Regions from separate parts of the Homo sapiens genome. Here region 2 is linked to region 1. Evidence: fine-mapped expression QTL. A gene starts in region 1. The other region holds a variant in brackets. All regions are shown on one strand. Distances are from middle to middle. Region 1 holds the start of EDIL3 (EGF like repeats and discoidin domains 3). Region 2 overlaps EDIL3 (EGF like repeats and discoidin domains 3).

What was found. PIP is the estimated chance that this variant, and not a neighbour inherited with it, causes the effect. A credible set is the group of variants that fine-mapping cannot tell apart.
Region 2: its variant is the best candidate, but not a certain one, in a credible set for the expression of EDIL3 in gastroesophageal junction (GTEx, PIP 0.89).

Annotation. Positions count from the first base shown.
Region 1 is chr5:84,382,363-84,387,745 of GRCh38, reverse strand. EDIL3 (EGF like repeats and discoidin domains 3) reads left to right here and starts at 2,866. Exons shown (of 11, transcript NM_005711.5): 1 at 2,866-3,438. The coding sequence starts at 3,372. EDIL3-DT (EDIL3 divergent transcript) reads right to left here and starts at 5,324. Exons shown (of 4, transcript NR_183295.1): 1 at 5,208-5,324.
Region 2 is chr5:84,290,465-84,295,847 of GRCh38, reverse strand. All of the region lies in intron 1 of EDIL3 (EGF like repeats and discoidin domains 3), which reads left to right. Among named protein-coding and RNA genes, the nearest start is that of EDIL3-DT, 89 kb to the left of the region's middle. The variant C/A (reference allele first, on the strand shown) is at 2,906.

The DNA.
Region 1 (5,383 bases):
AAACATTCAGCCCATAGCAAAACCCAGTGAACTTTTTACAGTCTTTTTTTTGTTTTGTTTTGCTGCTACTTTATTCTGCTTTGTTTCAAAGCATCATTTTCAAGTTATTTCCTTTGCAGCACTAAGTATTTAGTATACTAACAGGTGTTCTAAGAAAAAGTTTGTCATAGTACAAAAAAGAAAGTCTGCAAAATGCTGAATTAAATATTTTTGAAAAAAATTCTTAACCACAGGACCTTTCAAAGTATTTAATATACTAACATTCACCATGAATCTCTAAGAGGCTGCTTTGATATGCAATGTCTCCCCAAATTATTTTACCATGGATTTTTTCCTCCCAGAAACCTATTAACATCTTGGGGAAAAGGAGGCCTGCAGAAAATAACTTGAAAAGCACTGTCTTTGAGTGATGTACAGATTCATTTTTGGCACTGTAGGCTCCTATTAAGAGAAGCTATAAAACTGTAGGCTGGATCACAGTGATTAGTAAAGGTCCCTTAGCACTTTGTGTGAAGTACAAGCTTCACAATAGAGTTTCATCCTTTTACTTTTTAAATTTTATTTTATTTTAAATAATTCAATTTCTGCAGTCTTCTAACATATCTTATATTCCACTTCTGAAGAGGCTATGTGTGAGTGCAGTAACAGTGAAATGAGTCCTATCAAGGTAAATTAGGTAAAGTGCCTAGAATCTTCAAAATGAAAGGCTTATTGGTAGATGATCATTATCAATTAGTGGTTCAAAAAGAGGGGATGATTATGAATATGGAGCTGTGGATTTAAGACTATCAATTTTTTATTGGAAATGAGACGAGAAAGTAGAGATATTAAACTGGCAACATCTTTCATAAGTTGTCTATCAGGTAATACAGAATGTCATTTACTGTCTCCGCACCAAGTATTTGGGCATAGAATGTGCATTGTAATGTACTTTTATGCCCACTAGTTTTTAAAAACCCTTCTTTAAATTAAAAGAAAGATACATGTTTAGAAACACACACTGTTGGCAAAAATAATTTAACTTCTTAATATGCTCATTAAGGTCAAATACTATCAAAAAAGTGGAAATAAACAGGGAATAACATACAAAACTACACAAAATTCTTAACCCACTCTTTTTTTTCCCTTAAATATCACATCCCAGAGAGACTGGTTTCCAACTTTACATTTTTAGGATTTAGTACTATCCTTTAGAAATAAAACCTAAAACTAATATTAGACATCTCATTTCAAAAGTTAAAGTGTATTTTAGGATGAACATGCCACAGGGTGACTGAAAACATAGTTTCACAAGGAAGTAATGATGATGCACCAGAAAATTAGAATTTGATTGCTTGAAACATCTTTGCTACAACTCTGGACAATACTGTCTTATTCTAACATCTGTGACTTTAGGCATATAAATAGACAGTAAATAAATGAATCTCTCTCATTCTCTTAGCAAGGTGATTTTTTAAAAAATGTGTTTTAACCCTCCCACCAATCGTGAGATATGAACAAACCCTTTCTGAAAGGTGTTCTTTTTTTTCTTTCTTTCTTTCTTTTTTCCGTTGTTTGCTTGTCAGTTATACAATACCTTAAACCCTCCCTAGCAGTATTCAGCATTACGGTTCCATTCACCTCGCATTCTTCATTTCACTTAAAATTTGAAAAGGAAGGTAGAAATTTAAGTTTAAAGGACTCATCTCACCTTTAAAGGACTCATCCTTTAAAGGAGGCAGATGGAGATGTAGTTCCATGGCTAATTGCACTCTGTTATTCTTTTCTTAGTAGATTCACCTTTCAACTCTTTGCCTTCGAGAATGTTTCTCTTTCAATTTCTCTAGCTCTGTGTTTGTCTCTCTCCCTACCTCCCTCTCTAGAAGACAAAAAAAAAAAAAAAAGAAAAGAAAAAAGGAAAAGAAAAAAAAAAGAAAAAAAAGAAAAAAGAAGCCCTGTTTCATTTTGGTACCTGTAACTGCTGGAATTGGATCCATGTACAATAAGCAATCATTCTAACCGAAAAACAGAGAAGAAAGCACAATTGTAAGCCATGAGCTGTATTTTTGGTTCAATCACTTCCACTGCAAAAACCAGTCCATTTATTTTGGCGGATAGAAAGAAAATTTGATCCACCTTAGTGATGCTTCAAGGGTCTGTCTTTGCCTTTATGTTCTTGCACAGTTCCCAAACTTGCCCCACTTCTTCTCTGAAACAGATGTCCTGCTTAACGAGATGCATGTCTCCTACTCACTTCCACCCTTTTGCCCCCGTGAACAGATGAGCCCACAACCCTCTCTCCCCAGCCCTGGAGCTAACTAAATTGTAGACAGAGCAGCAGAGCAGCCCTGTCTTAGCTGATTAGGGTCTGGTTGCTGACTACGTTGCAGTTCCTGAGAAATACGGGGCAATTCACTTTGCAGGGTTCTGTCTCTCATGCAGTTTTGTGCCCCAAGAGTCACTTTTCAAAATCTCTTAACTTCTGTTCCTGGTTATACTGAGAAAGGAAGTTCAGGGGAATCCTTAACGTGGTTAATTATAAAGTCAGTGCTGGAATCCAAGGGACTCTCAGGCAGCAAGGGTGCAGCTCTTAACCCCACAGTCTCCAGCATGTGCGGAGAAGGTACAGGCAATGCAGGAACTTCAGAGGTGGTGGCAGGTGCTAGGTGCTAGGGTGTGGCTGCAGTTGTCTCCCTTTTCTCTTATAGCAGAAGGAGCTGAAAGAGGAGGGGAGGAGGGAGGAAGGAGAGAGAGAGCAAAAGAGAGACAGAGAGAGAGAGCAAAAGAGAGAGAGAGGAGGGGGAGACCCGGGGAGTGAATAACAGGGCGGGCGGAGGGCGGGCGGGCGCCGGGGGAGTGGGGAGCGCGCCTGCCAGGCTCAGACTCACACGCACGCCGCCTCTGTTTGTACACAGTGCGCTCCCGGCGGCCCGCTCGCTCCCCTCCAGCTCACGCTTCATTGTTCTCCAAGTCAGAAGCCCCGCAGCCGCCGCGCGGAGAACAGCGACAGCCGAGCGCCCGGTCCGCCTGTCTGCCGGTGGGTCTGCCTGCCCGCGCAGCAGACCCGGGGCGGCCGCGGGAGCCCGCGCCCCGCCCGCCGCGCCTCTGCCGGGACCCACCCGCAGCGGAGGGCTGAGCCCGCCGGCGGCTCCCCGGAGCTCACCCACCTCCGCGCGCCGGAGCGCAGGCAAAAGGGGAGGAAAGGCTCCTCTCTTTAGTCACCACTCTCGCCCTCTCCAAGAATTTGTTTAACAAAGCGCTGAGGAAAGAGAACGTCTTCTTGAATTCTTTAGTAGGGGCGGAGTCTGCTGCTGCCCTGCGCTGCCACCTCGGCTACACTGCCCTCCGCGACGACCCCTGACCAGCCGGGGTCACGTCCGGGAGACGGGATCATGAAGCGCTCGGTAGCCGTCTGGCTCTTGGTCGGGCTCAGCCTCGGTGTCCCCCAGTTCGGCAAAGGTAAGGCGTCGGGACCCGGACAGCTGGGTGAGGGATGGGCTGGGAGTCCCCTGAGAAACGCCGCGCAGGGGGCCGGAGGCGGTCCCTCCGGCGTGCCAAGGGTGGCGAGCGCCGCTGGCGGCGCGGAGGAGGCGTCGAGTCCTGGGTGCCCCGAGAAAGTGCTTGTAAAGTCTGAGCAGAGTGCGCGGGGCCGAGCGGGGAGAAGGGTGCGGGGTACCGGGGTGAGATACAGGAAAGAGGAGGACGGTGGGGAGCGGTAGAAGACAGCGTCCCCAGGACCAGCGACTCTGTGGCTCACTCGGCCACTGGGTCTCGGCGCAAACCCTCCCTAGGCAGTGCGGGCGATGCTGACTGCAGACGTCGGGCAGGGCTTTCGTGCGGGCGGGAGCGGGGGAAGCCAGTGCGCCCGGGCGTCAGCTAGTTGATGCGGGAAGAGGCTGGGGAGCTGCAGGGCCGTCCGCCCCCGGGTGCGGTGCTCTGGCGCAGGGCCTGGGCTGAGCCGTTCGCAAACCCAGACCCGGCGCTGGGCGTTTTGGCCGCGGGTGAGGTGGAGAGGAGTCTCACAGGTCACTTCAGCTTTCTCCTGCCTCCCCATCCCAGAGGAGCAGCATCGATTACAGCAAACCCCAGGAACCCGCCTCTCCTAGTCTGACCCCAGGGGCCTGGAGCTTAGCTGCGCACCCCCTCCGAGTACCAGTGTTAACTCTTGGTAATGGGGAATAGTGCGGGGCAAGCCACCCCTCGCGTCCCCGCACAGGAGCGGAAAAGTTGTGAGAGCTTGTAGGGTGATGCCTTCTGTGAATTGCACGAAAAAATAAAAACAGAAAAATAAAAATCAAATTAAATTAAAAAGAAAAAAGCATTTAAAAGAAAACGCAGGACTTCGACGAGTGTCCTGCTGGAGTAGTTTAGGCGACTTCCAGGTCCCCTGCGAGGTGCAGCTTGTCCATACAAACCCTTGTGCTGACCTGGGTCTCACCGCTGGCCGGGGCTGAAGTAGTCGCCGGAAAAGGGCAGCGGGGGCAGCAGGGTGTGTGGGGAGGCGAGTGGGAGCTGTGCCTGGGGGAGCTGTGCCACTCCTGCGCTCACAGATGCGGGCGGCCCCTTGTGAGGGATCCGCGGGTAATAGAATCCTCTGCAGGCAGCTTCAAGTGGAAAGCTGAGTGAACTACAGGGTTTTAAATGCTGTGCCTCTAAAAAAGGTAGATGGATTTAAAAATGCGTTGACTCCAGTCCACTTGAGATTAGACAGAGTATGAATATTCTGCACCATCCATCCATGCACCTATCCATCTATTTGAGTCACAAGAAAATTGTGGACTCTTGGGCGACTGTTCGCCCAAGAAGCCGGGTGTTGCTGGCCAGATGCCCTCGCAGCTCTGGCAGTAGAGATCCATGGCCGCGCCTTGCCTGGGCCTCCCTCCGTCCCCCAGAATGTGGTTATTTTCCCCCAGCGTGTAGGCGTGTGTGTAGGTGTGTGCCTCGCCTGCGTTTACAAAGTGCCCTTCCAGTTAATAGGCAAAGGCAGCCACTCCACTAAAGGTTAAGAAATGGTAATGGTTCCAGTAGTTGCTCGGCCGAGTCTCCAGCGATATAAAAAAGAGAGTGCTTCCACGGCTGCTGTTTTTCCTTTCTCTCATTTCCCGTCTGGATTTCCTCTGCACTTTGATCTCTTAGCAGGAAGGGAAGGGGGAAGGACTGCAGGCACTCCCCTCTCCTCCTTCTCTTCCCCGCCTACGTTTCCACCCCAAACACGAAAACACACTCACCCACTCACTCGCATTGTGTCACCGCCACCACCGTACGTCCCCGCTCCGAGGTGGAGGGCGGCGCGGGGTAGAGGAGAAGATAGTGCGTCTAGCCTATGTGGCCGCGCTTGCCTATGTGGCCGCGCTTGCCTGGCTGGGTCTGATTGAGGGAGCCCCGGGGCGCGGCAAGTCCCGGC
Region 2 (5,383 bases), 92 kb after region 1:
ATTAAAAACATGTCTTTGGGTATTCAAAATGCTTCCATTAAAACATAGCAAATGGTGTGTGTATAACAGTTAAGCAACACAGAGAGAGAATTCAACCCAAGTTTTTGTATATAAACAATTGCAATTAATATCAGTATGCATTATTAAGTTGCAAGTTGTTTAGGAAAATCTTGTAGTTATGTTTTTTAAGAGTAATATGTTTAAATTAATATTATATATTATTACTCTGCTATTTTTGAAATGAAGCAGTGAACTCTGATTAGCTCTCAGAAGTCAGTCATTATATTTAGGAAAAGTCAGTAAGTTTGCCTGTTACTCATTTACAAATTAATTCTTGTTGAATATTCAAAAAATATCTAAATATAATTTAATTTAGTTAATTTTTATCATGGGTATTAATACTCCACTGTTATGATGATAGACTTTCCTGTTGCTTTGGTAATATTGATAAATTCATTTTTAAGTATAAGTACCATTGTCTGAAATATTTTAGACTTTTTTTGTGGTTCATATTATTAGTGCATAAATGTCATCTAACATTATTTTAGAGTGGGTAACATCCTTTCTTCTAATGACATATTAATCACTCATACAGGTTAACACACACATATTCACACCTACAGAATTATTATTTTTAAAAGTTATGTAATCAAAAATATTTTTCTTTAATTTCCTCTATATTATGATATATAGCATGGGAATAGAAAAAAGTACTAAAATTTTTCATTTTCTTATAACTGTTAAGTTTTCTGCCTTTTTCTTTTCTGGCTACTATTCTTATTATTGAATTCCCTGTACAACATCTATGGGAACAAGATAAATACTCCAGAAAACTTGCACTTTGCTGAAATGTGTAAGTAATAAAATAAATTATACTGTAATGTATATTGCATTCAGTTTACTGTCACACTTCAATTTTGCTATTGTTTCAAGTGTAGTTGTTGTTGATGAAGTAGGGCTTCTTACCAGCAGTGTAACTTGGGCAAGTTACTTACCTCTAGATTCTGTGAGATGAGAATCATAAGGCTGCTTAATTCATTGTTGGGATTTACAAACGTAATGCACATAATGTGTTACCACAGCACCTGACACTCAGTAAGTTCTTAATAAAGATTAACTAGTAAATGTTGGCCAATTTATTTCCTAACTGTGCAATCTACATAACTCTTTATAATGTTTTCCAACAATATGAATCAATTTTGGTTTATAATTATTATTTTTTAAATATAAAGAATCCCTTTAATTGGTATAATTCTTGAGTGTGATAAACATGTATGTATATATGTATATATGTATGCACATATATATGACTACATCTGCCAAAAAACTAAAATTTGTTAATAAGTATTCAAAATGTTTTATTTCTTATGAATATTTGTCTAGTATATCTGGCTAGTTGAAACTTTTCACAGCATTTCCATCTGGATGATGACTTAATTTTTTTTTTTTTTTTTTTTTTTTTTGAGACAGAGTCTCGCTCTGTCACCCAGGCTGGAGTGCAGTGGAATGATCTCAGCTCACTGAAAGCTCCACCTCCCGGGTTCATGCCATTCTCCTGCGTCAGCCTCCCGAGTAGCTGGGACTACAGGTGCCCGCCACAATGCCTGGCTAATTTTTTCTATTTTTTTAGTAGAGACGGGGTTTCACCATGTTAGCCAGGATGGTCTCGATCTCCTGACCTCGTGATCCACCCGTCTCGGCCTCCTGAAGTGCTGGGATTACAGGCGTGAGCCACCGCACCCGGCCGATGATGACTTAATTTATGGTCATTATGGTATATGCAATAATGAAGGGGAATCTGCAATTTTACAGTATGTAAGTTTGACTTACTTTTTTGGATGCTGCCATACTTCATGTATTTTATATAAACATTTGCAAATGGGATATATAATATTGTTCTGTTTCCAACAAACCTAAAATATGTATTTGTATGTCTATATAAATGTATTAAGACTTTTGTTGCAAGAAATTACATATAAACAGAAAAGTGAATAAAACAAACATACATCGTATTGAATTGTTTTCAAGAGAAAACTCATATAACATCATTTGGTCAAAAAAAAAAAAACAGTCTTAATCCAGATACATTCTGTGTAGTACTCTTTTCTAGCCACAATCCCCCCTCCCCCAGCCTCCCACAGCTGGCAAAGCAAAATACTGTATTTATTTTTATATTAATCACTTTCTTGCTTGTTTTACCACATTACAACCTGAAAATGTATCCCTAAATACTGTAGATTTGCCAGCTTTAATTTACCTTAATGTAGACATTTAACTGGGACACATGCGGATGGAACTTGACACGATTCATTTTTCCCTATGTTTGCCTCTACATGGGTAAGTCTACGCTTGAAAACAAGAGTTAGCAGAGCTACTCGCAGGTTAAGCTGTAGCACAGTGGTTAAGAGCACAGACTCCAAAGGCAGCAGCTTGGATTCAAACTGAGGCTGTGCCCCCAGTGTCTTTCAGGAAGTTATTCAACCTCTCTGCCATCTTACGTTACCCAACTTTAAAATTGGGTAATAATAGTGTTTATTCATAAGCTTTTTAGGAAAATTAAATTAATTAACTTTGTAAATTGCTCGTGTTTGTTAAAGAAATATATCAACGGCTTTGATTGTGTTGTTAGTGTGAGAAAACATTTTAAATGGTCCATTTTCAAGGCATGATAAATCTAAGTACTGGCAGCCAGGCTGCAAATGTAACAAACCACAGGGCTCTTGCACCTAGAAGGTCACAATAAGCAAACAGAATGTAGCGGAGGGGTCAGCCCATAAAAGGGAAGAAAGTTTCATTTTTGGGAAGTCGAAACTTAAGCAAGGAAGGGGATGGAGGTATAACCTTATAAGGGAGATAATGAAACTTTAGGCAACGTCTGGGAAGATTGTAACCCCATAGTACTCGA[C/A]CAATGAGGAACTAGGGGAGGGACTTGCGTGCTAGGAGATAAATTACCTGTTGTGACTGCCCCAGATGTGCCTGCCTACCAGACACTCGATCTTGCAAGGCTGTTATTAAAAGTCTCACTTTCGCTGTTCTTTTTGCTTCTAAGTCCATCTTTGGGTTTGGGTGGGTGAGTGTGTTTCTCACATTAGCAATAACTCTGGGCTTATTCAATATACCCATGAGTTTCTGGTATCTGATAAATTCCTTAGTCTGTGAAATAAAGAAAAGTATATAGCATGAGAACCAAATATTTTAATGGTAGGATATATTCAAATCTTAAAAAAATAGGATATAATTATAGCATTACCACTTTTTATTTTCAAACATTAACAATAAACACTCATAATATCTCTTCTGCCATTGAGAGTTTGTATCATTGCTGTTGGTTGGATAATATGCTGCACAAATCTGTGCAATTCTCTGTCCTGTTTCTTCTGTGCACAGCTGAGAGAACTAAACAAAAGTGCATTTATAAAAAGTGAATGCTTTCCTGGCTCCGGGACACTATGTCTTATTCAGCATGAGATGGGTTCTGAAATTCTGAGTGCCTTTTAATATCTTATTCAGAAAACAACCTCTAAATTTTGAATGTCATAATTTTGTGATTTAAAAAAAATCATCAGTGTTATTGATATTTCCAATTATTGTTAGTAAGCAGGTATGAAAGAGAGTATGGTGTAAAAATATATCAAACCTGATGTGTTATTTGGCTGGAGCTGCAGTGACAAAGTACCACAGACAGGGTGGCTAAAAAAACAAAACAAACAAAAAAACAGAAATTTACTTTCACTGAATTTGTAATTGTAATTTTATTTAACTTTAAGTTAAATAAAATTTAACTTTAAGTTTATATAGCCACTTGTGGCTAGTGCTACTGTATTGGGCAGTAGAGATGTAGCACTGAGTTTTTTTTCTTTTTTAATGTATCTGGGTATATCAATGGCAAATGTGCTTTTATATGTTGGAGTTGGAGCTACAAAAATATAATTTGATGCTCTGTATATTGTCTGCTATACTTTTGTTAAAGTTATTACTTTCTATATATCCAGGGCCTGTAGGTATATATATATATATGTGTGTGTATATATATGTGTGTGTATATATATGTGTGTGTATATATCTGTATATGATATATAGATATATAGATATATAGATATATCTATATAGATAGATCTATATAGATATATAGATAGATCTACATAGATAGATATATAGATATATCTATATAGATAGATATATATATAGATATATAGATATAGATAGATATATACACACACATACATGATAATGAATGTTCTCACTTCCTGGTGGTTAGTCACCTATCTCTTATAATCTTTGTATCAATTTTTGTCTAAAATTCTATTCGGTTTGTTATTTACATTGCTTTTCTTTAAGTTAAATGTTTTGGCACACACACCGTCATATTATTTCCCACCTTTCAGGGTTGTTTTGTTTTTAGTGTACCTTTTTAAAAGGATATATACCTATATTTTCAAAAAATTCAATCTGATAACCTCTGTCTTAAAAAGTGCGATTGTTCCCTGATTCAAGTGTTCTTTATATTCAGGCAAACCGGTTGTGCATTCATGTGTGTGTAAATATAGCTAAAATAAAATTAAATGTCCTAATATCATTTGGCTGACATTCTCGTGCCGATCATGAAAATCAATTTAGTAAGGAGAAATGGTAAGCCTTAATTGATTTACCTGACTCTAAACCTATCAGCTCTTTTCTCACTTTAGTTTGGTTCAATTTGACAAGCAGCTACGAGTAACTTGCTTGATTCTGTCAACTAAACTCACTGTTGGGCAGGCACTACCTTGCATTTTTTTCTAGTACTACATATTGAAATTTTAAAGCAGGTTATCAAGGAGATTATAATGTGACCAACTTCTCTGGCTTAGTAGAGAATATTTTTAGTTTAAATGTTGCAGTGAGACTAAAGCTGAAATCACAAATGTTCAGTGGCATTCTGTTCAAGGGTTGAAACTGAGCCACTTGAAATGAAGTAGGGAAGGCAAAGCTCTACCTCTGCACTCTTAGGATCTTTGGCTAGGTTTGAGACTAGATTGACATAAGGCAGATTAATAGGAGAAAATCGTAGAGTTTATTTTACATGCACCTAGAAATCTCCACAAGAAAATGAAGACCGAAAGAAGTGGCAAAACCCAGATGTTTATACATTAGGTTGAACAAAGTCTGGTGATAGTGGATAAGTAACTAATATGTATGGGATAGCTAAGGAAGATAAAAATTATTTTTATAAGATCTGTTGGTACAGATACTTTTCAGCCTTGACTCACCATCTCTGGTAAGAAAAATATTTCTTTCTTCCTGGTACAGGGAGGAGAAAGAAGGTCAGACTCTTTTTTTCCTGCTATTTTTGAAATGCCTTATGCCAAAGTGGCTAATTTTGAGGTGGCATATTCTGCCAACGTTC